4 linked regions of the Homo sapiens genome follow. The protein of the gene in region 1 purifies or fractionates together with the protein of each later gene. This does not show direct contact. Each region holds a gene or a part of one and is shown on either strand. Other genes may lie near its edges.

Region 1 (8,385 bases):
CTGAGTTAGAAAGGAGTATATCAGACTTGTGACTGTAATCCCAGCTTCTCAGAAAACTGAGGCAGGAGGATTGCTTAAGCCCAGTAGTTCCAGCACCCCAGGCAACATAGTGACACCCCATCTCCTAAAACAAAAAAAAAAAAAAAAAGAAAGAAAGAAGTATATTAAGCAACAAAGAAATAGTTAAATATAAGTAAAGGCCTGTAATCCCAGCTACTTGAAAGGCTGAGGCAGGAGAATCGCTTGAACCCAGGAGGCAGAGGATGCAGTGAGCCGAGATCGCGCCACTGCACTCTAGCCTGGTGACAGAGCAAGAGTCCATCTCAAAAAAAAAAAATTAACTGGGCATGGTGGCATGTGCCCGTGGTCCCAGGTACTTGGGAGGCTGAGGTGATAGAACTGCTTGAGCCCAGCAGGTTGAGGCTACAGTGAGCTATGATTGCACCACTGCACTCCAGTCTGGGCAACACAGCAAGACCCTGTCTCAAAAAAAAAAAAAAAAAAAAGAAAAGAAAAAAAGAGAATTCAAATAATCCATTATATAATAATAATACTAATTATTTTTATTTTTTTGAGATGGAGTCTCGCTCTGTCACCCAGGCTGGAGTGCAATGGCACGATCTCAGCTCACTGCAACCTCCGCCTCCTAGGTTCAGGCGATTCTCCTGCCTCAGCCTTTCAACTAGCTGGGATTACAGGCGTGCGCCACCACGCCTGGCTAATTTTTGTATTTTTAGTAGAGACAGGGTTTCACCATGTTGGTCAGGCTGGTCTCGATCTCCTGACCTTGTGCTCTGCCCATCTCGCCCTCCCAAAGTGTTGGGATTACAGGCGTGAGCCTACATGCCCGGTCCCATTATATAATTACTATGTGAATATTGATACACCATTAAAATCAAAGTCTATTCTATGCCTAAACAACTAGGGCTTTAAATAAATGTAGCATCAGTTAATATGGTAGAAAACTGTTACATTTCTTTAAAAAGAAATACTATGTTCTGCTTTTTCATCCCTAAATCCAAGTTAAAAATAAACAAACAAAAACTTTCAAAAATTATAGGAGTTACTCAAAACTTATGTATTAAATATCAATTCTTTAATTACTTAGGGCACTAAAACTGGGCAGCTATCATATAGAAATAGAGGCACTCTGCAGGATAAAGTTCAAATGATACTTACAGAGGTATCATAATTCCCAGGTGGAGCAATGTAAGTTACAGTTCCTCTGTTTCGTGGGGGTAACATGATTTTGTGTTTGATAAGCGAGTTCTCACTGACAATTCCATAAATGTCTCCGCCAGTGATATGACTACCAACCTAGAGATAAATGTATTTGCTGTTTAATTTGCAAATAAATGTCAAGTAGACTTGCCCCTGCTGCTATAATTTAAATCAATTACCTGACTTATCAATAAAACATTAGTTCTAAAATCCCATGAAGTAGAGTTAAGAAAAACTTTAAACTATCCTTCTGTAGTCTATTTTTATTTGGACTAAGAGTACAATGTAGTTTACTAAACATTCATTTTATATTCTTTCAATAACTTCAGAAATTCTTGGTTACACAGACATACCCGTAGGTTTTTGCAAGGTGTAAAGTCCCATTTGATATCTCTGCTAAGAGCAGACACGTTTACTCCTCTGGGGATGTAGATGCTTTGGGTCTGACTGCTGATATCCGACAAAGGTCTTTGAATACCATCAAAAATGGCTCCCATAATGCCAGGACCAAGCTCTACAGAGAGGGGTTTACCAGTGCGAAGTACAGGATCTCCAACAGACACACCAGCTAAAAACAGCAGCTAAGGAAAACCTACTATGAAGGTTTAAAGACACAATTAACAGGAAATACCACAGTTTAACAAGGAAATGCCACTCAAGAAGTGAAAACGGAAGTTCCCAAACTTTCTCAGTTCACAGGATTCATAGTGTTTTCAGTAACTTCTTTCAGTGTCCCAGGACAAAAGATATATCTAACACTTGCATTTATTAAACAGTTATGTCTAAACAACCTAATATGTATATACGTCCTAACAACTGAGTAGCAATTTGAAAAAATATATGCATAAGTTGAAAGAAAAAATAATATTAATTTCAGTCCTAAATATCCATAATTCTCATGAATGTATATGCCCTTGGGGAACTATATAATTTTCCAATCTTGCAATCAGATTGGAAACTTGTTCCATTTTGATTGTCACATGATACCTGCTTTTGTAGCTTAGCAACTGCCAAAAACTCAGCTTTGCAAAGATATGACATCATTGACAAAAATATAGTACAGCAACATAATGAAACTGTTTATTATCTCAAGCTACTAGTTCATGTGGTGTCTGACAATATGTCTAACATTCCTGTGTTTGCCTCAAAAATTTTAAATATCCTGGCACCACATGAGTTTGCTGCAGCTTCTCAGAATGACTCTGCAAAGTTTGGGAACCACAGGGCTAAAAACAGAAGCAAAACTCCCTCATTAATACATTGCTTCACATATGCTGCTGAGGAATATCAGTCCCCTAATAAGGGTATTAGTACTTGGACAAAACCTAAAATCTTAAGAATAAAGTTATTTTGAAAACATACAAATAAGAATAAAATATATAAATAAGCATAATGAGTCCACTTTATTCTACACATTTGTTGACAGGAGTAAAATCAGTACAACTTTTCCTGAGAGCAATTTAGCAATATTTATCAAAATTCAAAATGGGTAAGTCGTGACCTAGGAATCCAACTTCTGTGAATTCTTACTATACTTACAATGTAGCACTGTTTATAACAACCAAAAACTAGAAACCAAAACTTCTATCATTAAGACATTGATAAGTAAATAATGGTACATTTATATGATGGAATTGTTATATGGCTGTAAAAAAAAGAACCAGAGTTATCATGAATTCCTCTAGAAATCTCTCTAAACTATGTATTTTCATTTCCAATTTTGATTATGAAAATTTTCAGAACAACAACAAAGTTGAAAGAATTTTACAGTGGACTCCCAGTCTCTACAAGCTAGGTTCTATATTTAACATTTTACTATATTTATCACATATCTATTTATCTTCTAGAATACACATACTTTTAAGTGAAAAAAAGCAAGGTGTATAACAGTACCTAAAATATGCTATCTTGGGAGGCCGGGGCAGGTGGATCGTGAGGTCAGGAGTTCAAGACCAGCCTGGCCAAGATGGTGAAACCCCATCTCTACTAAAAATACAAAAAATTAGCCGGGCATGCTGGCACGTGCCTGTAATCCCAGCTACTTGGGAGGCTGAGGCAGAGAATTGCTCAAACCTGGGAGGCGGAGGTTGCAGTAAGCCGAGATCATGCTACTGCACTCCAGCCTGGGCGACAGAGTGAGACTCTGTCTCAAAAAGCAAACAAACAAACAAAAAAACCATATATATATGTATATATATATATATGTGTATATATATACGTATATATATACACATGTATATATATATATAGAGAGAGAGAGAGAGAGAAAGGAAAGAAAAATACAAATATTTGTATTTGCTCATGTATGTAATTACTAAACTAGAAGGATATAAAATAAAGGGAGCTATAAATGTGGTTCCATGTGTGCATGGAGGTGTGTATGTGTTTTGATAAACGGCTAGATACAAGACAACAAAGGCAAGGAGGGTTGTCACTGTTTACATTTTCATTTATTTTAAATCTTCAAGCCATGAAAAAGATTAAACAGATTAAAAGATAAAAGTAAAAATAGAAAAAATATTTCTGATTAGTCACAATTTCATAGCTACAAAAACTTCTATTTTTATTTAAAATTTCTAGATGATTTTGTTTTAAATTGGCACCTAGTACTATAAAGAGACTAGTTATCTGCACGCATGTGTTTTAGAATGGCAAAAACGTCGTACCAAATAAATCTTGATTAAATACTCAAAGAATTAATGCTGATTTTGAGAATCAAAGTAAAACACATATAGAAGCACTAAAAAAGTGGTTCTTCTTCACTAGGCTTAACCCTTTATTTTTCATAGAAAATTGAAAATAAATACTATGTTTAAAAGCCAAAATTATGATAACCAAATAGTAAAGCTTTCCTAGTAATAAAACTGAAATGTAATATGTCACTCAGTGCTATCAAAAGAATGGTGACCGTTTTATTTGTGGACTTACTATTTTAAACTGAAATCATAATTAGAGAATTTTAACCTCACAAGTCAATATTGTTATTCTGTTTACGCTTTCTTCTACAATATGCGTCCCAATGAAGAAAAAATTCACTTGGTCCCCCTTAAGTTCATGAATTACTGAAGCAGTAAGAGCAATGAAAGTTCAGAAGATACTAATTTCTTAAAATAAGAGTACCAATTCATAGTACTTTTCTCTCTTTCTTTAACATACTCCTGCATAATTCAGGTCTCTTCACAACACCAGCATTTCATGCTTCTAATATCATTAGTTGTTGCTGCTTTGCTGCTTCCACCTTTGGCTTAAATCCTCAATTTTTTTTTTCTTTTCTGAGATGGAGTCTCACTCTGTTGCCCAGGCTGGAGTGCAGTGGTGCGATCTCTGCTCACTGCAACCTCCCACCTCCAGGGTGCAAGCGATTCCCCTGCCTCAGCCTCCCAAGCGGCTGGGATTACAGGCGCCTGCCACTATACCCAGCTGATTTTTGTATTTTTATTAGAGATGGAGTTTCACCATGTTGGCCAGGCTGGTCTCAAATTCCTGACCTCAGGTGATCCACCTGCCTGCCTCCCAAAGTGCTGGGATTACTTTGTGTGAGGCACTATGCCTGGCCTAAATCCTTAAATTTTGAAATATAGAAAGTGGCAGGAAATTGAGCCAAAAAGGATACAAGTTTCTTCATACACCTGAATAGTAGCCATGTCACCCTCCAATCGAATAATCTCTCCAACCAATTCGCTGTGGCCCACTCTCACCAGCTCATACATGGCTGCACCCGCCATGTCACAGGCTGTAACCACTGAAGAGAACAAAAGACTATTTTGATGACTTAAGACTCTAGTGCTCTGTGAATAGTCACAAATAATTAAAACACCCAATAAACCCAGTATTGTGCCTCTCTCATATATTCATAAGAAGGATAAAAACCTACTATGGAACATACTGGTAGTTTCACATAGATATATATTTTAGTGTATAATATAAAGAGGTAAGCCAAAGATTATTTATTTACATAATATACATGAAAACTTTTCAAACATTTCAAGTTCTGCATGGCAAACTTACCTGGTAGGATTCAGGTATGTTCTGAGAGTTGCTATGATACATGGAGTGAAGGCTTTGGAACAATAAAAAAAACTTTTAAAAGTAGAAATTGGAATAAATGGTTTGGCTAGTAGTATGGTAGAATGCCACACAATTATCACTTCGCTGTGCTGTTACCATTTCCTTTGAGAGACAGACCTAAAGCAACATGTTTACTTTCTAATAACTTATAGCAGTAGTTCTTAAAACTCTTCTGGGACATGGACCCTTTTCAAAAACTAATAATAGCTCTACTAGAAAAACTCACACACACATCTACAAAATTTTTTTCATAGGCCGTAAGGATATTTATAATCAGTCACCACCATTGGGTAAGAAATTGTCAATGGAATTCCATTTACTGAACTTACTATTTTGGACCATGTGGTCTAGTAAGCAAAAATTACTTTTCTAGCAGGGAAGGAAGGTTGCCATATTTTTAGACACGTGTAAGAATAAACCAATTTTTAATATTTAGCCTTCTGATACAACTGATTAGAACTATGTTATAGGTAATACTTCAGTGGAAACTATTAAAGCTTTATGAGTTAATTAACCTGTGTAAAAACAATGAAGACTTATTCATTCTATAAATATTTACCTCTATGCCGACTACTTAAGAATTAAGATGCACTGAAATACCAGAGATAATGAAATTTAAAAATCATATTTCATAAGCCAAAAAAGGATGCCATTGTTCCATTACCTTATTAAGTACTTAAGAATTAAAAATTGCAGGAGGCAAGGGGAGGGAGAGCATTAGGACAAATACCTAACGCACGTGGGGCTTAAAACCTAGGTAACAGGTTGATAGGTGCAGCAAGCCACCATGGCACATGTATACCTATGTAACACACCTACACTTTCTGCACATGTATCCCAGAACTTAAAGTAAAATTTAAAAAAATTTTTAAAATAAAATAAAAATTGTTTCCAGGAGCAGTTTACTACACAGTTTCACAGAATATTTTTTCCTAAACTCTCTGATGTTCTTTTGCCTTTTCTCTAAAGGTTCTTGGGTTTAGTCTGTCCATCCTGAAGACCCTTATGATCATTGAGAGGACAATTATTTCTCTGCATGGCAAAAGATACTGATAACCTTTTAATGACCTGCCAATGAAATCAAGCTCAAACACCAAGTTCTTGGGGGAGAAAAAAGAGGCACAGTGACTGACAGTCTTCATTTGCGTAAACATCAAAAAACTGTCATCACCACTACTCTAACTAGAACAAGAAAAAGACTATATAGCATGAGGTTTTAAGGATAATACATCACTGACCAGGTTTTACTTAGAGAAACTGTGACTGTGAATCACATTGTGTAGTGGGAGTATTCAATAACAAAACAAATACTGGCGTAAGATTTATTATTTAAAAAGCAGCACTCCATGTTTTGGCAGAATGGACATAAAGTTTGGGTCCTAAGACTTCTTTCCCACAGGTAGTTAATAATGTGACACTTAAAATAACCATTCAAAAAGTTTCATAAATGCAAAGGGCAAAAGCTAATATTGCTGAGAAATGCTCTGAGCGTTTGAATTATTAAAGTTCAAAGCAAATTAACATTTACTGAATGCCTGCTATATGCAAGGTATTACATATTAAAAGCTATAAACTTCATAGTTTATTTACCTCAAATTTAACAAAAAATTAAGACATATAAAACTGAACACTGGTTGAACATTTACATAATTATAAACAGGATATCACAAAGTAGTACCTCAATAATTATAAAATTTAGATAATCAATGCTAGATGAGCCCTTATGACAGAGATTCTACTTCGGTCTTATAGTCACTATGAGATCGCCTAAGGACAAACAGAATTTATGCAGGTAAACAGAAAGTTGTATATTTCTATGTAAAATATTTTGAAAAGACATTAATCAAAGTTAGATATCCTTATTTTGAGATTATGATGTATTACTTACCAGGTCCTGAGACCCCATGCACATAACCAAATGTGCTTTCTTTATCTTCATCGAGTATTTTGGGTAGCTTGGAAAAATCCATAATGTTAGTTTACCTATAGTAAATAAATAAATAAATAAGTTATAATTATAAACCGTAAAGCAAAAGACCCAAAATATAGGTAGTCCACTAAGATGAGACCACTCTCATCTTTGGTGTATTCTTGAGTTATTATACTTCTTCAAAGTAGAATAAAAAAATTCCTTTTCTTAATTTAAAAAAAATTTTTAAGAGGCTCTCTGTCACCCAGGCTGGAGTGTGGTGGTACAGTCATAGCTCACTGCAGCCTCAGACTCCTGGACTCTAGCGATCCTCCTGCCTCAGCCTCCCAAGTAGCTATGACTACAGGTGTGTACCACCATGCCCAACTAGTTTTTTGTTTGTTTGTTTGTTTGTTTTTTTGAGACAGAGTCTAACTCCACCACCCAGGCTGGAGTGCAGTGGAAGGATCTCTGCTCACTGCAACCTCTGCCTCCCGAGTTCAAGCAATTCCTGTGCCTCACCCTCCAGGGTAGCTGGAATTACAGGTGCACGTGACCATACCTGGCTAATCTTTGTATTTTTAGTAGAGACAGGGTTTTGCCACGTTGGCCAGGCTGGTCTCAAACTCCTGACCTCAAGTGATCCACCCACCTCAGCCTCCCAAAGTGCTGGGACTACAGACGTGAGCCAGCCACTGAACCCAGCCAAAATTCCTAAAATGTAGTTAAAAGTACCCTATTCCTGGATGCTGGATGGTTTTATCACAACTGAATTATATCTCTATGTGAGGTATTTCATAGGAAATATCGATAACTATAACAAAAAATGTGAAGTCTTTTCAATAACTTATCCACCCCCACAACAAGCCCATCCTCAATGACCTCTCTGACTTATCCAGCTACTCTTTCACTTAATCATGCTGCAGATACACACTGAACTCTTTGTCAGCTCTCAAAAACACAAGCACATTCTACCTCAGGGCCTTTGTACAGGTTGTTCCCTCTGCTTAGAATGTTATTCTCCAAGGTATCTGCTCCTACACCTCCTTCAGGTCTTTTTTTCTAACACAGTCTGTCTCCGTCGATTTGGCAGGAGTGTAATGGTGTGATCATGGCTCACAGCCAACTCAACTTCCTGGGCTCAAGAGATCCTCCCACCTCATCCTCCCTAGTACCTGGGACCACAG
Region 2 (8,385 bases), on another chromosome or scaffold:
CCTCAGCCTCCCGAGTAGCTGGGATTACAGGTGCCCGCCACCACGCCCAGCTAATTTTTGTACTTTTTTAGTAGAGACGGGGTTTTGCCATGTTGGCCAGGCTGGTCTGGAACTCCTGACCTCAGGTGATCCACCCGCCTCGGCCTCCCAAAGTGCTGGGATTACAGGCATGAGCCACTGCGCCTGGCCATATTTAGTTTTTAGGCTGGCAACTAATACTTGGACCTCGAATACTATGGTTTACTCATGTTCTTAATTATATTACTAAATAGCCAAATATGTTTATTTTGTTTTTTGATCTTTTTCTTTTCCAAGTATGTTTAAATATTCAAGTCTTGATTCAGAATAACTGATAGGTTACAGAGCATGCAAACCCATTCACAAGCAATCCAACCTTGGCACTGCATAGCTAAGTTTTTGTATAAGGATTTAGACTACCTTCCTAGGAAGCAAAAACTTAATACTCAATTTCCAATTATGTGGATTCCTTTTTCTAAATTCTTGGTTTTGTGCAGTGGCACGATCATAGCTCACCGCAGCCTAAAACTCCTGGGCTCAAGCAATCCTCCTGCCTCAATTTCCTGAGTAGCTAGGACAACAGGCACATGCCACCAGGCCTGGCTAATTTTTTCATTTTTGTAGAGATGGGGTCTTGCTATGTTGCTCAGGCTTGTCTTGAACTCCTGGGCTCAAGCAATCCACTCGCTTCGGTCTCCCAAAATGCTGGGATTACAAGCATGAGCCAATGCACCCAGCTGTTTCTGTTACTTTTAAATAGGTTTCCTGCATTTCTTTTTTTTTTTTTTTTTTTTTTTGAGAAGGAGTCTTGCTCTTTTGCCCAGGCTGGAGTGCAGTGGCGCAATCTCGGCTCACTGCAAGCTCCGCCTCCCAGGTTCATGCCATTCTCCTGCCTCAGCCTCCATAGTAGCTGGGACTACAGGCGCCCACCACCACGCCCAGCTAATTTTTTGTATTTTTAGTAGAGACGGGGTTTCACCGAGTTAGCCAGGATGGTCTCAATCTCCTGACCTTGTGATCCGCCCACCTCTGCCTCCCAAAGTGCTGAGATTACAGGCGTCAGCCCCTGCGCCCGGCCAGGTTTCCTGCATTTCTAATGAAGAAATAGGCTGGTCCTCAATTTTGCAGAAGTTGTATCATCATAGGTCATACCTAACATTCGTTTGTCAAGAGCAAAAAAACCCCCTTGGGTTCTCTGGATCTCACACAGCCCACAAACCTTCAGAATGTGGTTCCTTCCCGCAGGCTTTGTCACACTTAAGATCCAAGAACAAATCAGCCTGGCTTTAACATGGGGTAGATGGCAAGAAGGATAATGGCTAATAGAAGGTTTTAGTCCTTGTATTAGTCCCCATGTTACAGATGACAAAGCTGAGTAACAGAGAGAGTATCCTAACCAAGTTCATCAAGCTAGACACCATGAGACAGTATTCTGTGATGCTGATAGAACATTGGTGACCAGGCTGTGAATGGGTTAGTCCTAACACAGCTGTGCTTAGAAAGTAAAATAAGAGAAGAATGCTTAGGATAGCGAGGCTGATGGATCCAACTAACAACTTACACAAAGGTCTCTGTTGGCTCAAAAAGTTCTAGTTGTGTCTCTCTGGCATTCTGCCCAGTTTCTGCCCTTGAAAAGTAACACTTAAGGAACACTTTAAATAGTGATGAACTTTTCCCTGACTCTTAAAACCATGGACCCACATTTTCATACACCCAATAAAATGTTATTTGTCCCTCTTCTGAACTTCCAGTTCTGAATACATATGGCATTTCATTCATTCATTCAACATTCACGAAGGAGGTATGTACCAGGCAATGGGGACACAAAAGTGAATAAGATATGGTCCCATCCTAGCCTCGAGGAGCACACAGACAAATAAAAAGCCAATTCCTCATACAAGGCTGTAAGAGCTAAGCTAAATGGAAGACAGGATGCTGCAGAAGGCTGCCTCACTCAGACTGAAGGAAGGAGTGTTTTCTGGAAGAAAGGATTCCCCCAGCTGAGTAAGGAAGGATACACAGGAGGCAGTCAGATGAAGAATCAAGGGAGCAAGGGAAGAAATAGTGGCTTTTCAGGCTGCAGCACATGCCACTCCCTGGCCGCGAGAAAGAGTGACGAATCTGTAGATCTGGAAGTAGATCAAGGTGGCTGAGGTTCAAGGACGTGAGAAATGGTAATGGTAAGAGACTGGACTGGGAAGAGTGCTGGTGACCAGAAAATATAGGATCACATACATCGAGTGTTTCTGCAGAATGAGTGTATAACAGAGAATGGATTTTGTTATTTTCCTCATAACACTGTCACAAGAATAGGCAAATTTTTTCGGTGAAGGGCCACACAGCAAGTATTCTGCACTCTGTGGGTCACACGCTATCACTCTCCTTTTTCTTATATCCCTTTAAAAATGCAGAACCCATTCTTAGCTCCAGGCCACAGTTTAGCAACCTCTGTTCTGCTGTGACTTCTTATTTAGTGTCTGCCTTTACTGTGAAGACTGAGCTCTCTGAAGGCAAATACTGTTACCACTGTATCCTCAGTGTCTAGCACAGGGCCTGACACTTAAGGGGCACTCAAATAATTACCTTTTTGAACCCAGGAGAGAAATGACAAGGATCTGCATTAAGTGGGCATAAAGAAGGGGGAAGATTCAAGAGATAGTTAGAAGGTAAAACTTAAAGAGCATGGTAACTGATTAGCAGGAGGTAAGAAGGAACGAGTCAAAAAGAACTTACTACACGTTTTATCTAATCACAATTACTTGTATGTTTCTTATCCTATTAGAATATAAGTGCCTTAAAAGAGAGAATCACATCCTTAACACTGTGTCTAGCACTGTACTGTGCACATAGTGGGTATTCAACTTAATAACTTTTTGAATAAAATTCCCATTATCTTAACCTTTTTTTCATAAACATTAAAGTTTTTCAACAACTAAGAAATTTTCTTGAGGAAAGCAGTATATAGTTGGCCCTCAGTATCCATGGATTCAACCAACAGCCGATGTAAAATATTTGGAAAAAAGACAAAAATAATGATAAAATAATAAAAACAAAAACCAATACAACAACAATTTACATAGCATTATAACTAGAGATGATTAAAAGTATACGAGAGGATGTGCATTTTTTATATGTAGTACTGTGCTATTTTATTTCAGGGACTTGAGGATCTTCAGATTTTGGTATCCTGGGGGAGGTGAGAGTGAGTACTGGAACCAATCCACTGCAGATACTGAGGGATGGCTATACTATCTTTTGGTACTGATATAGAAAACATAATGATTAAAAAACATAATGATTAAAAAATTCCTGGACCTTCCCAACATGCAATGGTTTATAGATTTATGTAAAACCAAATCTGAAACTAGCCCTGTAACTCAGAAAGCTTGGCTTACAATTGTTTAAATTCCAAAAAAAGATTTCATAAATGATACTGAATTATCCACATCCCATTCCTAATCCTTTAGAAAACCGAAAACTAAGCCCGAGTGTTTCCAGCTGAAACAATAAAAATAAAGCAAAGAGGTCCCATTTTTACCACATCTTTATAGCCTAAGAGTTAGGATGCAAGTTTCAGCAATGAGTTTCAACTTCAAAAGAAAAAAACGAAAAACTTTTAAGCATCCAAACAAGCAGACACAGCAAGAGGAAAAAAAATTCTCTGAAGGCGACAATCTACAATTACTCACAGAGCTGCAGCACCAGAGATAATTTCAATCAACTCTTTTGTGATGACAGCTTGGCGGGTACGGTTGAATGTCAATGTCAATTTGTCAATCATCTCAGCTACAAACAAAACAAAAACACTACATAAAAAATCTGAAACTAGAGTAGAATAACTTGTTAACTAACTTCTGTTGCTTAATTTAAAAGTAAGAAATTTTTGGATACCAAAATTGGCCTCTCAAATAATGTTATGAAGATATTTTTACATCTTCCATAGGATACCTTTTCACAGTACTTGCAAATCAACTACCTATCAAGATATACTTTCTTACAGGTACAGGAATATCATGTTAATGTTGTTGATGCTACTCTCGGCCACGGACTCCTCTCAGCTGAGATTCACTGTGTGCTCACAAGCACTCCTGCTGGCACTGTCCATACTGTGTACTTACAAGCATTCTTGCTGGCATTGTCCATGGCTGTCATCCTGGCACTCTGCTCACTAGTGGTGGACTCCTTCAGAGAGTAGTAGATGATGTTGGCCAGATTGTATTCTTGGTAATTTTGCAGCACGTCAGCATCAATATCGTCATAGATACTCATGCTGTCTGTTAAAACAAGTGATGAGTTTCTTTCAAGTTATATGGAAGGAATAGTAATTCATCAAAAACAGCTTTTCAGTGTAAAACTCCTTTATAATTACAGAGCAGAAATTAATGCTAGATAAGGTAAATGAATCTGTTCTAATAATGTCATCTATTTCCACACTACAGATGATAGCATATTTTTAGCAAAATATAATGTGTAAATAAACCATTTGATATTCTACTCCACATGTGTAACTTTAGAAAAATTAGGTCAACATTTGAAATAACTGCACTATATCTCGTGGTTATGAAGCCCTCTGGACAGCATTAGCATGTGCCTGTTACAAAGCCAGCAAGCACTCAATGCTTTTTCCAGTAAAAAAGAATAATAATGAATTGAAACGAATTTAGTGTAATACAGGTTGAGCATCCCTAATCCCAAAGTCCAAAATCTGAAGTGCTCCAAAATCTGAAACATTTTGAGCACTGACGTGATGCCACAAGTGGAAAATTCCACACCTGACCTTGTGTGATGGGGTGCATTTGAAACTTTGTTTCATGCAGAAAATTCTTTAAAATATTGCATAAAATTGCCTTCAGGCTATGTGTATAGGGTGTACAGACTCAGGTCCTGTCCCCAAGATACTGCATTATAAATATGAAAATATTCTGAAATCCCAAACATTTCTGGTCCTAAGCATTCACACAAGGGATACTCAACCTGTGCAGTAATTCCAACTTAGTCATTTGATTACTGAAGAAATCTGAATGTATCAATCTGGAAAATGAGAGAGGGAAAACCTTTCAAAGCACATGAAAGAGTGGGAGAACTAGAAATTGGTATGAATCGTAGTTTTAATGTTGTAGAAATTTAGAAGTACATTTCAAAATTCATTCATTGGGGTCAAGTGGTGACACAGTACTATATATTATCAAAATACTATATTTCATTAAATGGTACTGGTTGTAACACCTACTTTATTTCTCATTAAGAGAGAAAAAAATGTACTCAATTATAAATGATGTTCCATTGGCTGGTAGAGCCATCTCAATTTCAGAAACATTAACGTGTAAAGTACATACTTGAAAATAAATGAAGTATTAGAAAATAGATGGTATATACAAGGGAAAAAAGCCTTAGAAAACTAAAATCAGTTCCAGAATATTATTCCAGGATGCTTCAATGATCAATGATGACTTTATTCCAACAATAAAACAAGAGAATTGAGTCAGTCAATGTAAATTAGCTGTGAACACTGTTCAACTCTCTATTCTAGAGCTTCTGTTTTATTGTAGTTAGAGGTCCCAAACATAACTTGCAAAGCCAGTTTCTAGCTACGCTCTTCAATCCTTGAGGACAAAAAAATCTAATGATGAACCTCAATAGATACTGACTTTTCAATTAATGACAGAATAGAGCAGGAGTTATCAAACAATGACTGAATTAAGTATCATGGAAGTCAAGAGATGGCACTTCTCAGAAACAGCCCCAGATCGGCCGGGTGCAGTGGCTCATGCCTGTAATCCCAGCACTTTGGAAGGCCAAGGCAGGTGGATCACTTGAGGGCAGGAGTTCAAGACCAGCCTGGCGAACACGGTGAAATGCTGTCTCTACTAAAAATACAAAAATTAGCCAGGCGTGGTGGCGTGCACCTGTAATCCCAGCTACTTGGGAGGCTGAGGCAGGAGAACGGCGTGAACCCGGGAGGCGAAGGTTGCAGTGAGCCGAGATCATGCCATTGCACTTCAGCCTGGGTGACACAGTGAGACTCCGTCTCAAAAAATAAAAAATAAAAAAATAAAAGGCTGGGCTCATGCCTGTAATCCCAGCACTTTGGGAGGCCGAGGCGGGTGGATCACGAGGTCAGGAGATTGAGACCATCCTGGCTAACATGGTGAAACCCCGTCTCTACTAAAAATACAAAAAATTAGCCAGGCTTGGTGGCGGGTGCCTGTAGTCCCAGGTACTAGGGAGGCTGAGGCAGGAGAATGGTGTGAACCCAGGAGGCGGAACTTGCAGTGAGCCGAGATGGTGCCACTGCACTCCAGCCTGGGAGGCAGCAAGATTCCATCTAAAAAAGAAACAGCCCCAAATCATTTGCTATAGCTACCACCAGATATCTTGACACTGTCTGCCTTAGTGTACAAATCTCTCCATTCTATATGCCAAAAAATATGTATCATAGAAAAACTACTTACCAGCACTTGCAACGGTATTAAGGGAAAAGATGGGCTTTTCTTCTGTCTTATAGGAGATGACAGACCTAGAATTGACAAAAACAAATGTAAATCTCAAAATAATTTTTAAACTGTTATTTCAAAATATGAACAAAAGCATGAACATAAAAAAGCTTTGATTTCTAAATCTGTCTTGCCTGAATTTATTAAAGATGATGGAGCCTTCATCAAATTCATATCCAGAATTTAGTAATTCAAGGGCAATGACTGACGCATCTCCAAAAGTGGGGGGCTTTCTTCCCACTTCTTTGAATGCCACCAGAAACTGGTCAGAATGAGTCCTATAAGAAAAGCAAGAGCTCACATAGCTAGTTTAATAAGATTTCTGCTGAAAGAGCACAGGGGACAGGCAGGAGAAAACATTGTCACCATGGATCAGGTCTTTTGGGGTATGGGTGGTGGTGATTTCCTGAGTTGTTCCACACACTATCATCATTCCTTTCCTTCAGCACCTGCAAAGAACTAAGAACTAAAAATGAGGTCTGTTTTATATTCTTTTCCCCTTTATTCCTCTCCTTCTAATCCTAATGAACTATTGCTAACATTTCCAGGCTGTAACAGCTCCTCAGATGCCTCATTTGGCTTAATGCTGATAGCTTTTGATATTCACATGGCATTCAACTTATGATCCGGATGAAGAAGCAAAGGTAGAAAACAGGGGAAGGAAAACAGAAATGTTCCAATATATCCTGGAAAAAAGAAAAAGGAAACAAACACCCCCTTGTGAATATACCAAAAAAGGCCCTGAAGAATATACCTTGTTATTGATGAAGGTTTTGAGAGTTTGTCAAAACTTTTGAGAGAAGATTTATTCGTGCTTACATCTTTATGAAAATAAACAATATATATTTAAATTACCTATAAAGTATGCCTCTGATTTTGTCACCAATTCCAACAAGCATAACTTCTTTCCCAGCTGCTGTTAGTGTAGCAACCTCGCTTTTCATCTGTTTAGCAATGGAGGAATGAATAGCACCACACAGTCCTCGATCTGAGGACACACCAATAAGGAGGTGTTTCTTCTTGTCTTCAGGCCCCTTGATATCAGCTTTTTCATACAGAGCTTAAAAACAAACAAAAGCAGTAATTTTTTTATATGCAATACACTAAATACAATAAATCTCTAATTTACAAAGCAGTTGGTTATTTCCAAAATACGCATTTAAATTTAGCTGGCAACTGCCTAGTGTAAGCAGGTGTTCTTAGGACAGCTGTAAGCTGAGGCCGGGCACAGTGGCTCACGCCTGTAATCCCAGCACTTTGGGAGGCCGAGGTGGGCGGATCACCTGAGGTCAGGAGTTTGAGACCGGCCTGGCCAACGTAGTGAAATCCCGTCTCTATTAAAAATATAAAAATTGGCTGGGCACGGTGGCTCACGTCTGTAATCCCAGCACTTTGGGAGGCCAAGGCGGGCGGATCACAAGGTCACGATATCAAGACCACGGTGAAACCCCGTCTCTACTAAAAAATACAAAAAAATTAGCCAGGCGTGGTGGCGGGCGCCTGTAGCCCCAGCTACTTGGGAGGCTGAGGCAGGAGAATGGCGTGAACCCGGGAGGCAGAGCTTGCAGCAAGCTGAGATTATGCCACTGCACTCCATCCCGGGAGACAGAGCTAGACTCCGACTCAGAAAAAAAAAATACAAAAATTAGCCAGGTGTGATGGTGGGGGCCTGTTAATCCCAGCTACTGGGGAGGCTGAGGCAGGAGAATCGCTTGAGCCTGGGAGGGGGAGGTTGTAGTGAGCTGAGATTGCACCATTGCACTCTAGCCTGGGCAACAGAATGAGACTCCATCTCAAAAAAAAACACAAAAAGAAAACAAACAAAAAACAACAACAAAACACACACACACACATAAAAAAACAAAGGACAGCT
Region 3 (8,385 bases), on another chromosome or scaffold:
CACCGCACCCGGCCAAAAGATATCCTTAATATTTATCAATTTTCTAGTACTTTGAAATGTACTCCAATTTTTAAGAATTCGTCTTTCAAATAAAAAAGAAAAGGAAGCCAATGTATAATCCTTATTTATACACTAGGTAGCAAAGCTGAGTTACAGTTTAGTTGTATTTATTCCTATTTTCCTCCTAATCAAGCAATATTTTCTTTATCAATAATTAATTTCACATGGACAAGATCTGGGGAAACCATTTGAGATTTTATTCAATAAAAGAAATAATAGGCAGGGCATGGAGGCTCACGCCTGCAATCCCAGCACTTTGGCAGGCCGACGCAGGTGGATCACCTGAGGTCAGGAGTTTGAGACCAGCCTGGCCAACATGGGGAAACCCCGTCTCTACTAAAAATACAAAAATTAGCCGGGCATGGTGGTACGTGCCTGTAGTCCCAGCTGCTTGGGAAGCTGAGGCAGGAGAATCGCTTGAACCCAGGAGGCAGGAGTTGCAGTGAGCAGAGACTGTGCCACTGCACTCCAGCCTGGGTAACAGAGTAAGACACCATCTCAAAAGAAAAAAAAAAAAAAAAAAAGAACAAAAGGGAACAAGGATAGGAAGCTGTTTTTTGAATTCAGGTATAGTGTGGCAAGCTGTAAAAAAAGCAAGAATTTCACAACTCACCATTAGCTGATTTTAAATCAGGGAGGATGTGATTCACAAAGAACTCAGTTAGGTTTACAAGTTCATTTGCTTGTGTAATTCCATGCTGAAAAGCAAATTCATAACATAGTAAAATAACAAAATACCTGTATATATCTATCACATTAGAAATTCAGGCAATTTTAGAAAACCATGTTAAAATGGAGATGAACACTTCAAAATACAAATTGCTTATGTATAAAATGAGACTGTACTGGCTGTGTACAGGAGCTCACGGCTGTAATCCCAGCACTTTGGGAGGCCGAGGCGGGTAGATCACTTGAAGTCAGGAGTTCAAGACTAGCCTGGCCAACATGGCAAAACCCCGTCTCTACTAAAAACACAAAAAATTAGCCAGGTGTAGTTGCATGCACCTGTAATTCTAGCTACTCGGGAGGCTGAGGCATGAGAATTGCTTGAACCCGGGAGGCAGAGGTTGCAGTAATCTGAGATGTTGCCATTGCATTCCAGCCTGGATGACAGAGCAAGACAACGTCTCAAAAAAAAAAAAAAAAAAAAAAAAAAAGAGAGAGAGGGACACTTCAAAACATGAACTGCTTAGGCTAGGCATGGTGGCTCATGCTTGTAATCCCAGCACTTTGGGAGGCCAAGGCAGGTGGATCACCTGAGGTCAGGAGTTCAAGAACAGCCTGACCAACATGGAGAAACCCCATCTCTACTACAAATACAAAATTAGCCAGGGTGGTGGCGCATGCCTGTAATCCCAGCTACTCGGGAGGCTGAGGCAGGAGAATCACTTGAACCCGGCAAACGGAGGTTGCGGTGAGCCAAGATCGTGCCATTGCACTCCAGCCTGGGCAACAAGAGCGAAACTCCGTCTCAAAACAAAACAAAACAAAACAACAACAACAAAACACAACCTGCTTATGTATAAAATATAAAATAAGACTATACTGTCTAGGCACGGTGACTCACACCTGTATCCCAGCACTCTGGGAGGCTGAGGTGTGAGGATCACACGAGGTCAGGAATTTGAGACCATCCTGACCAATATGGTGAAACCTTGTCTCTACTAAAAATACAAAAATTAGCCAGGTGTGGTAGTGCACACTTGTAATCCCAGTTACTTGGGACGCTGAGGCAGGAGAGTCGCTCGAACTCGGGAGGTGGAGGTTGCAGTGAGCTGAGATCACGCCATTGCACTCCAGCCTGGTGACAAAGTGAGACTCCATCTCAAAAATATAAAAATGTAAAATAAGACTATACTAATAGACAATAAAGAAACTTTCCTCAATTAAAGAACAGCTAAGTTTAAGTTAAGCATATTTGATACAGCGGGTCTCAGCTAAGGTAACAAGTGTGGCCATCTATCAATTTTCTGGTCTATAAGAAACTTAAGTGCTCAATACATCAACATAAAGCCATCTTCAGAGATTATATAAATCTTAATCAGAATAGGTTATCTGGCAGAGTAAGCTCTATTATCAGAGACGTTATTTCTTTTTGACTTGTGTGGGTGTCACTGATGTCTGTTTTAGAAACAAAACCACATTAAAAATATTTACCTTCTGTGTTTGGGCTTTTGATGCCAAAGATGTCACTAGGTAGATGGCTGCATCTTTGTGTTTCCAGTTGACAGATGGATTTTTTGCGTATTCCTGCAGCATGGAATTAACATAACCAGAGAAGATTCCTGTCACAGGTCCCTCAAAAAACTTGCATAATCCTCGTACCAGATCACAAGCAGCCCTGCGTCTAGTATCAATATCTATGAAATGAAAAGAAAATATATTATGGGGAAAAAAAACAACCACCAACAAGCTGATCCAATTTATAAGAAAACAAATTGCCTGGAATAATTTGGCTACGATTGTAAAACGGAAAAAAAAGAACGAAAAACAAAGGGCCACCCAATAGCTATCAGCAACACAAACAATGAAAAAAACATTCCCGCCCCCAAGAAATACAAAATCAAAATGAAACTAAAGAGGTCACAGAATCACAGAATTTTGATAAATACTATGTAAGAACAGACAAATGATTCAACTTTTGATATTTTCATTCAGGTCATATAAGAGCTTTTTAAGACAAGTTGAAGAAAGACAACAGTTCTCAATGAAAGCCCGCTGAAAAAACACTCTTATTCTCAATCCCACTTCTCCCATTTACTAGAAAGAGAACCACCTTAAAACTGGCTTGCTAAGAGACTAGTAACTAAAAAACCAAGATACACACCAGATCCTTCCAAATCTCTCCTTATGTACTCCTCAGAATTATCTTCAAATGCTTCTTCATCAGCAGCTACAAGGAGAGATGATATTTCAGATAACACTCCAAAAGACGTCACTGTACTTTACAGCTGAGAATGCAGAAGAGTATGTAAAACTGCCTTGTTCTACAGCAAAGAATTCGTTCCCATCAGATGACTACTTCATATACTCTTAATCATTATCTAGAGCAGCAAATGCTACCCTGAAAGGTGAGGTATTAGGTAATTCACACAACTATGAGATAGGCTCACTTGTTCTAATGTGACAGTTTCCCCAGAATTGGATTATACCTGCAACTGTCAAAAATGTTAGGGATCAGTATCAGAATGCTAACTTTTAATTTCACCAAATAAGAACATTAAAATACCAACAACCTAATTTTAATCACTATTATTTCATTAAAGTCATTTCAACAACAAATAAGTAGAGTGGACAATGTCAGAAATGGCCGGCATGGTGGCTCACGCGTGTAACCTAGCACTTTGGGAGGCTGAAATGGGAGGATCGCTTGAGCCCAGGAGTTTGAGACCAGCCTGGTCAACACAGCGAGATCTCATCTCTATTTTTATCATATAAATTAAAAAAAAAAAAAAGTCTACACACACACACACACACACACACACACACACACACACACACTGCAGTTGTATGATCATGTCTCACTGCAGCCTCCACCTCCTGAGCTCAAGCAAAACTCCCACCTAAGCTGCTTGAGTACCTGGGACCACAGGCCCATGCCACCATACCCAACTAATTTATTTATTGTAGAGATAAGGTTTTGCCATTTTGGCCAGGCTGGTCTTTAACTCCTGGGCTCAAGTGTTCCTCCCACCTCAGCCTCCCAAAGTGTTGGGATTAAAGGTATGGGCCACCACACCCAGCCAGAAGATTTATCCTTTAAACATATTTTTATGAAAACACAACAGGAAATAAAATCTCACGCTATATTGTCCTTAATTTCCTTATTTTGTTCCAGATGTAATTTGAAAACCACTGATCTAATAACTATTTTGATATAAAACAAAATCTTGGCCTGGCATGGTGGCTCATGCCTGTAATCCCAGCACTTTGAGAGGCTGAGGCAGAAGGATTGTTTGAAGCTAGGAGTTTGAGACCAGCCTGTGCAACATAGGAAGACCCCCATCTTTATAAAAAATAAAAAACTAGCTGAGCATGGTGGTGCACGTCTGTAGTCCCAGCTACTCAGGAGGCCAGGGTGGGACAATGACTTGAGCCTGGGAAGTTGAGGTTGCAGTAAGCCATAACTGTGCTACTGCACTCCAGCCTGGGTGACACAGTGAGACCCTGTCCCCAAAACAAAAAACACAATCCCTCCCACCTTCATTACTTGTTCTTCACAACTGTTAGAACAAGGACATACATTTTATAAATATAGGCTCTTAGCACTATAGTTTAACCTTAAGCACAAACTAAGTGGGCTTCAACCTTGTATTTATAAAGTTATCATTTCTATTCTCAAGTCGATTGTTTAAAAACAGCTATTTCTGGGCGAGGTGGCTCAGAAATGCAATCCCAGCACTTTGGGAGGCTAAAGCGGGTGGACTGCTTGAGCTCAAGAGTTTGAGACTACCCTGAACAACATGGTGAAACCCTGTCTCTACCAAAAATACAAGAAATTAGCCAGGCATGGTGATGTGTGCCTGTGGTCCCAGCTACTCAGAAGACTGAGGTAGGAGGATCACTTGAGCCTGGGAGGCTAAGGTTGCAGTGAGCCAAGATTGCATCACTGCACTCCAGCCTGGGTGACAGAGCGAGACCCCTGTCTCAAATAAATATATAAATAAATAAAGCCAGCTAAAAATTCATTGAAATAATAAATGAAACAAAATCAAATTCTTTCTCTAAATAGAAATTCCAGATAGTTTATCTTCTTAGTGTAAAGGAATTTTTGAAGTCTTATTTAATATTTCCATGAGAAAACCCTCACAGGGCACAACAAAACTCATTACAGATACTACATTTTCTGTCTTGGTTTAGAAAATAAGAAATAAATGACATACAAGTTTTATCCAGTAATAAATGAATTAGACTGAATATGTTACAAAAAACAAACACAGACTTAGTAGATTTATACTAATATACTTTTGCCATAATTACCTCTAAATTCCATGTTAGGCACAATAACCTTTTCACAGATACTTGTCAGCGTGTTCTGGTCCTCAAATAGATTCTTATAATGAGGTCTCTCACAAACTGAAGCCAGAAATTGAATTGCATTACTTACCAACTGGAACAAAACACAAAAACAAGAATATTTTTAAAAGCAAAACTCAACAGCTTATTTCTTGGAGGAGATAGGGAGAGAATGTCTTTTAATTATTTGTCTCCACCATCATCTTACCAAATCATATTTAACCTCTTGACCCGTTGTAACTAGTAAATTCCAGATGGCTGTAACAAAACGAGGCAGGTATCGCTGGAATTCTTCATCGTACTTTTGTGCATAGAGTGCGGCATTATCACAAATCTGGGATTTTAAGAGCTCCAATAAGCCGGCTTCCTCTTCATCCTCACATAAAAGAAAACAAAAACTCCAACATACAACTCTAATGCTAACATAAGTAAGAGGAGTAACTGAAATTCCTGAACTAGACTCTTTATCAATTAAATCCAAATCAAATCAGTTATTGTAAACTACAGCTATGCCACCACCAATCTTTTCACCAAGTCTTTCAAATAAGTTGCTGAATTACAAAATATTTCCGTATTAGATTCAAACAGTATATTCTGGCTGAGTGTAGTGGCTCACGCCGGTAATCCCAACCCTCTGGGAGGCTGAGGCTGGAGGATGGCCTGAGGCCAGGAGTGGTTTTTTTTTTTTTTTTTTGAGACGCAGTCTCCCTCTGTTGCCCAGGCTGGAGTGCAGTGGCGCGATCTCAGCTCACTGCAAGCTCCGCCTCCTGGGTTCACGTCATTCTCCTGCCTCAGCCTCCCAAGTAGCTGGGACTACAGGCACCCGCCATCACGCCCGGCTAATTTTTGTATTTTTTTTTTTTAGTAGAGACGGGGTTTCACCGTGTTAGCCAGGATGGCCTCGGCCTCCCAAAGTGCTGGGATTATAGGCGTGGGCCACTGCGACGGGCCAAGCCCAGGAGTTTTGAGTCTAGCCTGGGCAACACAGCAAGCCCCCAAAATAAAAAAAATCAGCTGGGCATGGTGGTGCATACCCATAGTCCCTGCTACTTGGGAGGCTGAGGTGGGAGGATCACTTGAGCCCAGGGAGGTCGAAGCTGCAGTAAGTCATGATCATGCCACTGCACTCCAGCCTTGGTGACAGAGTGAGACAAGGGAAGACATCAGAGTAAGAACAAAAACCAAAGCCAAAACCAAAACTCCCTCACACTGATTACTTAAGGCATAAATAGTAGCACAAGGTAGCACATGGTTAACTGGGCAAAAAGGTCCTTGTAAGAATTCTATCCAAAAAATTTCCTTGTGACTTTTGTGTGAAGAAAAGTTTTGTTTTCTGAAGGAGTGTTTTTCCCTCCCATTGGACTGAAATAATTATTTTATGAGAGCTACATCTTTTAAAGTTCCTATTAATATAGTCAAACTCTGAGACAAAATCTGTTGTACAACGATAGTAACAATTTCTTTCTGTACCCCACTCTTAAAACCTGATTTGAATCACCAATTCTAATTTTTAGTTTATTTGGTATTGAAATATTTTTAATATTTTGTCTTTTGTCTCTTCGGAAAGAAGGTCATAAATATATTAACAAATGAGTAGCACAGAATAAGTGTTATATGTTTAAAAGTACACAATATAAAACCCATATCAGAAATATTTACAAATTACAATCTTTTACCATTTTCTCTCTTTCTCGAGCTGTGGATAATTTTTTCTTTTTCTGAGACGAGGTCTCCCTCTGTCTCCCAGGCTGGAGTGCAGTGGCATGGTCACAGCTCATTGCAGCCTTGCCCTCCTGGGCTCAAGGTCAAGGGATCCTCACAACTAAGCCTTCTGAGTAGCTGTGACCATTAGCATGAGCCAACACATCTGGCTAATTTTATTTTTATTTTTTGTAGTGATGGGGGTCTCCTTACATTGCCAAGGCTGGTCTTGAACTCCTGGGCTCAAGGGATCCTCCCCACCTTGGCCGCCCAAAGTGCTGGGATTACAGGTGTGAACCACCATGCCTAGCCAGATGATTTTTAAAAAGGGGCTACCATTATAGAGTTTTAAGTTTTCTTAGTATCTTCAATGAAAAATAATTTTATTTCATGAAATATCCATAATGTCACTACTTTAAAGACCTACTTTCAATAATGTAATGAAACAGCCTTATATGTACACTATGGCTTAAGCCAAGCCCATGATAAGAGTAATTCTGTATACTACACACACCAAACATGTAACATCAAATAGAATCAAATATTATTACAGTATTGAAATTTTATCTTTTAACAATGCAAGAGTAAATAGGTTTCCAGACTGTAGCCAAATAACTCTTAATGAAAGAAAAAGACCACTCAGGCAACATTTTAAATACTTACATCAGTTTGTAAAAGCTTATTATCCAATGTTAAGAGAGTATGAAAATTATTCATCCAAGTTTCCATATTATCTTCAAAAAATTCAGGGAGATCCTACAGAATAAACACTGACTTGAAACTTTTGATTAAAATATTAAGAACACCACTTTTATAAGTTCCCTTACCACGTGGACAAAACATTTTATACACAGGCTTCACAGCCTGAGCATTACCTATTCTGACAAGAATTCTCTGCTCCAGCTACATCTGGCAGCTGCATAAAGCATTCTGACTTCTGCCTCTGTTTGTATGCTATAAATGATGCCACCTCTAGTTCTCATCCTAATCTAAATCTTCCTTCAAGGTTCAGCTAAGACTATATGAAGACTTTCCTTACAAAGCTCAAGCTCAGTGCATACTAATACATCCCCTTTCTTTTCTGAACTACGTTTATTGTAAGATGACCACCAAGGCAGATAAACTAATTGTCTTTTAGTTACTGATTTCTTGTGGCATAGTACTGCCTTCTTAATGAGGGTACAAGTCCCCTGAGGGTAGATTATGCCTCTTTCCTTGGTCTCCCTGCCAGACAAGTTCTCAAGAGCTTCATTAAACCTGACTTCTCAGAATTCAAAAGGTGTAAGCAAAAATAGTAGTACTCATTTAAGTAAGAACTTCTCAAACTGCTATCCAGCTGAACACTGATGTGGGACATGTCCTTTTGGGCTGTTCATCTCCTATTCTAGCTAAAACAACCCAATTTCCTTTTGGGGAATGCTTTCCCTACCACTATGAGTTTATTCATGTTGTGAAGGTAAGTCCAGGTACTGGCTACAAACAATGAATGGGCTAGGCCCTCCTTGCATCGCAGTATAGCAACAGTTTGTACCAATTAACACCCCTTTCTTGGTCCTGAATCTTGAATTAATGATTAAGAACAGAAAGAATGATTGGAGGCCACTATCT
Region 4 (5,943 bases), on another chromosome or scaffold:
AAAAAAAGATTTTCAAAAGGAGTTCTACTTTTAGGAAGATGATTTACCAGTGAGCCCTGAGGATTTTATAGTCTGCTCATTTCTTCTCTAAACTGGTACTTCATTCCTTGGTTATCATTTTTCTATACTAGTAATCAAAAATCATGTTTCTGAAGCCCAGGAGGAGTCCCAGAAGTGTCCACCCAGCTCTGGCCTCCTCCCACCGTCTCTCCTCCCCATGCTTCCCCAAATGCACTCGTCCCTCAACTGTCTTTTCACCCGCTCACATCCACACTTTCTCAGCAGCTGCACACAACTCCCGGGGTGAAGCAACCCTGTCACACCACAAGCACAACAGATGTGCCACTCCCCAGCACAACCATGTTCACTGCTTCCTTCCTCAGCCTGCCCTGTGAGAGCAAGAGAAGAGCAGGGGTCAGTGAAGTGAAAGGGACAGACGGCAGCCCTGATACTTTAGACACAAATCTCGCCTGTGAAAGTGCTTCTTAAAACAAATCACATCAAGGTAAGAAAACCATCACCAGCAAGTCACATGAGCAGTTATGTTCCAAATGTGATGGGTTTATTTTATTTTACTATGATGCAAAACCAAAGATTCCACTATAGCACAGAGACCAGTATATTACAAGGTCATGAAAAAATGGTGTGGGACATGCAGGACGTGATGTACAAACTGGTGGGTCAGATCGTCTCCTCTAACATGACGCTACACTGTCGCTGAGGAACACATTTAATAACACTTCAGAACTGAACTGAAACGTGGCACAAACATGACAACTTCCAGGCATGCCTTCAAGCATCTCCCTCAGGAGGGATTCGCAACCCCTAGACTTCAGTGTGGGGAGGATTACAATTCTTTGGAAGAATAAAAAGTTCACACTTTTGAAATTTCACAGAAGAATTTTAAGGCCAAAACATAGTGGGTTCATTTCTCTTCACTTCCAGGGACAAATCTGATGCTTTCCTCAAACCACATTAAGCTTCCAGTTCAAATCCCAAGCCAACCTTGTGACCTCCTGCACTGAAGTTCTTCCCATCGATTAAAGCTGATAAAGTCAATTTGACTCCTAGGAAGAAGAAAACACCACAATCACTTGAAACAAGTATTACAATTAGATCTGAACTTTCTAGAAACAACAGATGGAATCAATGGTGTGGATTGTAGCTGGGTATACGAGCTATAAGCAAACAGCTATTACTCAATCGGTTATTTATAACTATCTGATGTGTAATGAGGAAAGCATGATCATGGCAAACTTTCTCTGAAGTTCAGGGTTAAGGGCAATGAGTGATCAACCAAACTCAAAGGCCAAAGTGACCACATTATAGTCAGAAATACATACTTTTTTAATGCAAAAGTATTTGATCTGTATTGTTTTCTGTCTGAACAACCAAATGTTACAAAATGGTCCAAATCAACTTACAGTGACTACAGGTTGTTCTGCAGGTTATTTTCATTGTTTTCTCTATCACCTTCCACCTCAACCCCTCTGTTACTAATTCCTTTACTTACCTGGTCGAAGGGTCTGAGTATAACCCAGTCCAATCAGGCTGGCATTATTTACTTTAGCCTAAGATTAAGAGATAGAATAATAACAGAAAACAGTGAATTACAGATCAGTCCAATATAACCATCACTTTGTGCATTAGGTTTCCAATGCTAAAAGCACCCTAGGGCCAATCTAGAATTACTGATTTTTTTTTTTTTTTTTTTTGAGATGAAGTTTTGTTCTTGTCACCCAGGCTGCAGTGCGATGGCACGATCTCGGCTCACTGCAACCTCCGCTTCCCGGGTCCAAGCCATTCTCCTGCCTCAGCCTCCCAAGTAGCTGGGATTACAGGCATGCGCCCCCATGCCCGGCTAATTTTGTATTTTTAGTAGAGACGGGGTTTCACCATGTTGGCCAGGCTGGTCTCAAACTCCTGACCTCAGGTGATCCCCTGCCTCAGCCTCCCAAAGTGCTGGGATTACAGGCGTGACCCACCGTGCCCAGCCGGAATTACTGATTAAGAAGTCAGTAGGACTTGTAGGGGTAGGACGTACCCTGAGAATGCATGCTTCAAGGCCTCAAGCAAAATTTTTAAACACTACACAACCAAACACCCTGAATTCTCTGAGATACCAGCTGACAATCTCTCACAGTGGTTACGGCATGAACTTGGGTGACAGAAAAACAGACCTAGGTTCAATTGTGGCACTGCCAGTTACTATGTGACCTTAGGCAAGTTAGCTGACCTTTCTAAGGCTCAGTTTTCTCATCTGTAAAACAGGGATGAGGATAACACTAATCGCCACATGGAGTGGTTGTGAGCGTTAAATGACATAATATACATAAAGCCCTTAGCACAGTACATGAAATTTAACAGCTCAGTGTTATTTTTAGTAAGAGTTACTATAGCAACAGAAATAGTCATCTAATCCCATGAATTTCCAAATAAGAAAATTCTGAGGCCAAAGTGATAAAATGACAAGGTCAGACAACAGATATACAGGAAGAGCTAGGACTAGAAGAACCCCTATTTCCTGACGTCAAGCATAATTTTTTTTTTTTTTTTTTTTGAGATAGGCTCTCGCTCTGTCACCCAGGCTGGAGTGCAATGGTGTGATCTTGGCTCACTGCAACCTCTCCATCTGCAGGGTTCAAGCAATTCTCCTGCCTCAGCCTCCCTAGTAGCTGGGACTACAGGCGTCACCTACCACGCCCACCTAATTTTTGTATTTTTAGTAAAGACAGGGTTTCACCTTGTTGGCTAGGCTGGTCTTGAACTCCTGACCTCAGGTGATTCATGCACCTTGGCCTCCCAAAGTGCTGGGAATACAGGCGTGAGCCTGGCCACATTATATTCCTTTCACTACACAATGAGCTGGCTTATTAAAATTAATAAAGAACAAGCAAACTACACTCATATCACAACATTCTCTGAAAACTTAGACACAAACATAAGAGCAGATCCAATCTGGCAGCACATTCTTACAGAGAGAGAAGTTCTACAATCCAGCATGTACTTAGCAGCAATGCCAAAACGGGTGTTGTTACTCCCAGCTGTCCAAGCAAGGTTTATGGATGTTTCAATCTTCTCATTCACCTTCTGGTAGATAGAACCTCCAAATTCAGTGCCATCGTTCCTGTTTTCATAGATAAGAAAACGTCATAAATATCTAGTTTGTACCATTGTTATTATGGTATGAAAACAAATTCTAAGACTATCTAAACAAGGATCCCATTTTGTAACTATAGATTTCAGCAAATTTCTAGCATAAATGACTACTAAACAAAACACAGAACTAAATCCAGCTATGCCAGTAATGACTGCTTAATTAAAACGTTAACACTTGATCCATTTACTTGGCTCCTCCACATGATGTGAGTTTCTTAAGACAATTCAATTAAGCACAAAGGCAGACACCTCGGGTAAGTATAATCTATAGGTCTCTGAGAAGTTCATAGAACTTAGAAACTTCAAAGTAGAGTTCAATAAAGATTCTGCAAAAAAATAAAAAGGTAGAGGTATAGGAATAAAACCAATTCTGGATTTCCTTTAAAACACAATCCTACAGTTAGAAAGCACCCTCCTACGATACCTAGGGTGCACTGCTCCAGAAAACCACCTTAGTTATTGCTTCCAAGCATGCCAGAGGTGAGTCCTTGGGTTTTCACATGGTTTTCCTGATAATACTGTTTCATCAATTTCAGTAACTGTCTATACCACTGCTTGCCTTTGTTTTAGCCATCATAAGTAAATTAGAGCATCTAGCAGAGAGGAATCTGCAACAGTTTAAAAACACATAGTTTGCCCTTTGCTTTTTCTTCCTGGTATAGTAGCAGTGTCCAGTAGGCTCAACATAAAATACTACGTAAAAGTTCTGATTCATCCCACCAACATGGTGCAGCCTACATAACTGAATCCCAGGACTCTTTCAGAGCACCTGTTACTTCTGAATGCATTAGCGGTACCTGGGTTCCAACCGAGAATACCAGTACCTGAAACCTCCACAGAATTACCGGGATGTCCCAGGATGCTCAGATCAATTTGGTGGTGGTTGTTGGTGACCAAAACAGACCTGCTTCCAGATACTGTCAAGATGAGAGGGCAGCAGAGGAAGCAGTAACATCTCCAAAGGGTCATCTTACCATGAGGTAAGCCATGCTCTGGGCTCCCTCTATCCCAGTGGTTCTTCTACAGAGGCTGGAGCTTCCTCAAGTTTGGGGTGCAGGCTGAGGGGCCAGTGACCACCAGCAGCACAGCCTGCACACCACGTGCACCAGCCTCCTGGCAAGGTTTTGCTATGAGGATAGCACCGCAAGGATGGATATTCACCAAGGCATGCTAAATCTGAGTACCATCACTTCTCAGCATGCTAATGGCTACAATATTTTGGGCAACTGCACTGATACTAAGGAATAAATTATAAACACTCACACATGTGTGTGCAGCTGGAAGTCCGCAGCCTTGTAACCCAGGGCGAAATTATTCTGTGACAGTTTGGATTTGGCTGTGTCAAAACTCATCTGATAGCCAGCAAGCCACCCTTCGAAGGCCAACACAGCCCAGCCATAGATGGTTGGTCCAGAAAAATCTATATCAACATTACTGCCAACACTAAAACAATCCCGTTTATAGGAGGCCTTCAATTTCCCACTCTTCTTTCTGCAATAAACAAACAAACAAAAGCAAATGATGAAAACAACATGAGTTCTTACTACTGTCTAGGAATTTTTAGAGTAAGATCCTCTCTCTCATCTCCCAATGTAAATATTATTTTGGTACATGCCACATATATAGTAAAAACATTTCAAATGACCTAGTTCTACAAATATAATTTTGTTAGGATTAGACATGTATAGACTACTATCATCTATTACTCATTATAAGTTCAAATGATAGGATACTTCATGATTTATTTCATAAAAGCATGAACAAAAGTATAAGAATGAATAAGAGGCTGGGTGTGGTGGCTCACACCTGTAATCCCAGCACTTTGGGAGGCCAAGGTGGGCGGATGACGAGGCCAGGAGATTGAGACCATCCTGGCCAACATGGTGAAACCCCGTTTCTACTAAAAATACAAAAATTAGCTGGGCGTGGTGGCACACGCCTGTAGTCCCAGCTACTTGGGAGGCTGAGGCAGGAGAATCACTTGAACCTGGGAGGCAGAGGTTGCAGTGAGCCAAGATCATGCCACTGTACTCCAGCCTGGCGACAGAGCGAGACTCGTCTCAAAAGAAAAAAAAAGAATGAATAAGATATTTCAGTGCCAAATTAATAATCTGAAGGTGTATGTATACAGACGTACAAGAAGCCAAATCTCTTTAAATGTTTCCAAATGCCAAATGCCACAAAGAATTAATCCCCAATATACATTATTAACCTATCATGGAGAGAAGCATGCTTTTTTGAAGGACAATACTGAAAAAATGAAATTAGTTCTTAATAACCCTATTCCAATCAAGCCTCTTGTAGGAATATTTGTCCTGGCCGGGCACAGTGGCTCATGCCTGTAAGCCCAGCATTTTGGGAGGCCGAGCCAGGCGGAACACGAGGTCAAGACAGAGACCATCCTGCCCAACGTGGTAAAACTCCGTCTCTACTAAAAATACAAAAATTAGCTGGGCGTGGTGGTGCATGCCTGTAGTCCCAGCTATTTGGGAGGCTGAGGCAGGAGAATTGCTTGAACCCAGGAGGCAGAGTTTGCAGTGAGCTGAGATAGTGCCACTATACTCCAGCAAGACTCCATCTCAAAAAAAAAAAAAAAAAAAAAAAAGAAAAGAATATTTGTCCTAAAGATAACTGAAGTGTGTGGCAAAAAGAACACACCTGTTGTTACGGCTGAGACAAATGTCACTTTGCATTCATCTAGCAACCTCCGTCCTTCAGATAGCATGGACCCACATTAGGCAGATAGGAAATGACACAATCCCCCTTTTTTTCACGAGGAAATTG

Evidence for each region.
Region 2: the proteins of ATP6V1A (region 1) and ATP5F1C fractionate together in Homo sapiens (co-fractionation; 3 studies listed by BioGRID). This does not show direct contact.
Region 3: the proteins of ATP6V1A (region 1) and CSE1L fractionate together in Homo sapiens (co-fractionation; 2 studies listed by BioGRID). This does not show direct contact.
Region 4: the proteins of ATP6V1A (region 1) and VDAC3 fractionate together in Homo sapiens (co-fractionation; 2 studies listed by BioGRID). This does not show direct contact.

The regions. Positions count from the first base shown.
Region 1 is NC_000003.12:113,777,628-113,786,012, reverse strand, and holds part of ATP6V1A (V-type proton ATPase catalytic subunit A), read right to left. Parts: intron 7,273-8,385; 5' UTR 7,260-7,272; coding exon 7,178-7,259; intron 4,964-7,177; coding exon 4,835-4,963; intron 1,790-4,834; coding exon 1,575-1,789; intron 1,318-1,574; coding exon 1,180-1,317; intron 1-1,179. UniProt on the Homo sapiens protein: Catalytic subunit of the V1 complex of vacuolar(H+)-ATPase (V-ATPase), a multisubunit enzyme composed of a peripheral complex (V1) that hydrolyzes ATP and a membrane integral complex (V0) that translocates protons.
Region 2 is NC_000010.11:7,798,177-7,806,561, reverse strand, and holds part of ATP5F1C (ATP synthase F(1) complex subunit gamma, mitochondrial isoform L (liver) precursor), read right to left. Parts: intron 7,573-8,385; coding exon 7,368-7,572; intron 7,132-7,367; exon of another isoform or gene 7,061-7,131; intron 6,791-7,060; coding exon 6,647-6,790; intron 6,536-6,646; coding exon 6,471-6,535; intron 4,293-6,470; coding exon 4,137-4,292; intron 3,805-4,136; coding exon 3,708-3,804; intron 1-3,707.
Region 3 is NC_000020.11:49,069,353-49,077,737, reverse strand, and holds part of CSE1L (exportin-2), read right to left. Parts: intron 7,534-8,385; coding exon 7,441-7,533; intron 5,453-7,440; coding exon 5,285-5,452; intron 5,171-5,284; coding exon 5,041-5,170; intron 2,954-5,040; coding exon 2,888-2,953; intron 2,421-2,887; coding exon 2,218-2,420; intron 759-2,217; coding exon 674-758; intron 1-673. UniProt on the Homo sapiens protein: Export receptor for importin-alpha. Mediates importin-alpha re-export from the nucleus to the cytoplasm after import substrates (cargos) have been released into the nucleoplasm.
Region 4 is NC_000008.11:42,400,495-42,406,437, reverse strand, and holds the end of VDAC3 (non-selective voltage-gated ion channel VDAC3), read right to left. Parts: intron 4,651-5,943; coding exon 4,423-4,650; intron 3,486-4,422; exon of another isoform or gene 3,348-3,485; intron 3,128-3,347; coding exon 2,977-3,127; intron 1,572-2,976; coding exon 1,514-1,571; coding exon of another isoform or gene 1,510-1,513; intron 1,068-1,509; coding exon 976-1,067; 3' UTR 501-975; downstream 1-500. UniProt on the Homo sapiens protein: Non-selective voltage-gated ion channel that mediates the transport of anions and cations through the mitochondrion outer membrane and plasma membrane.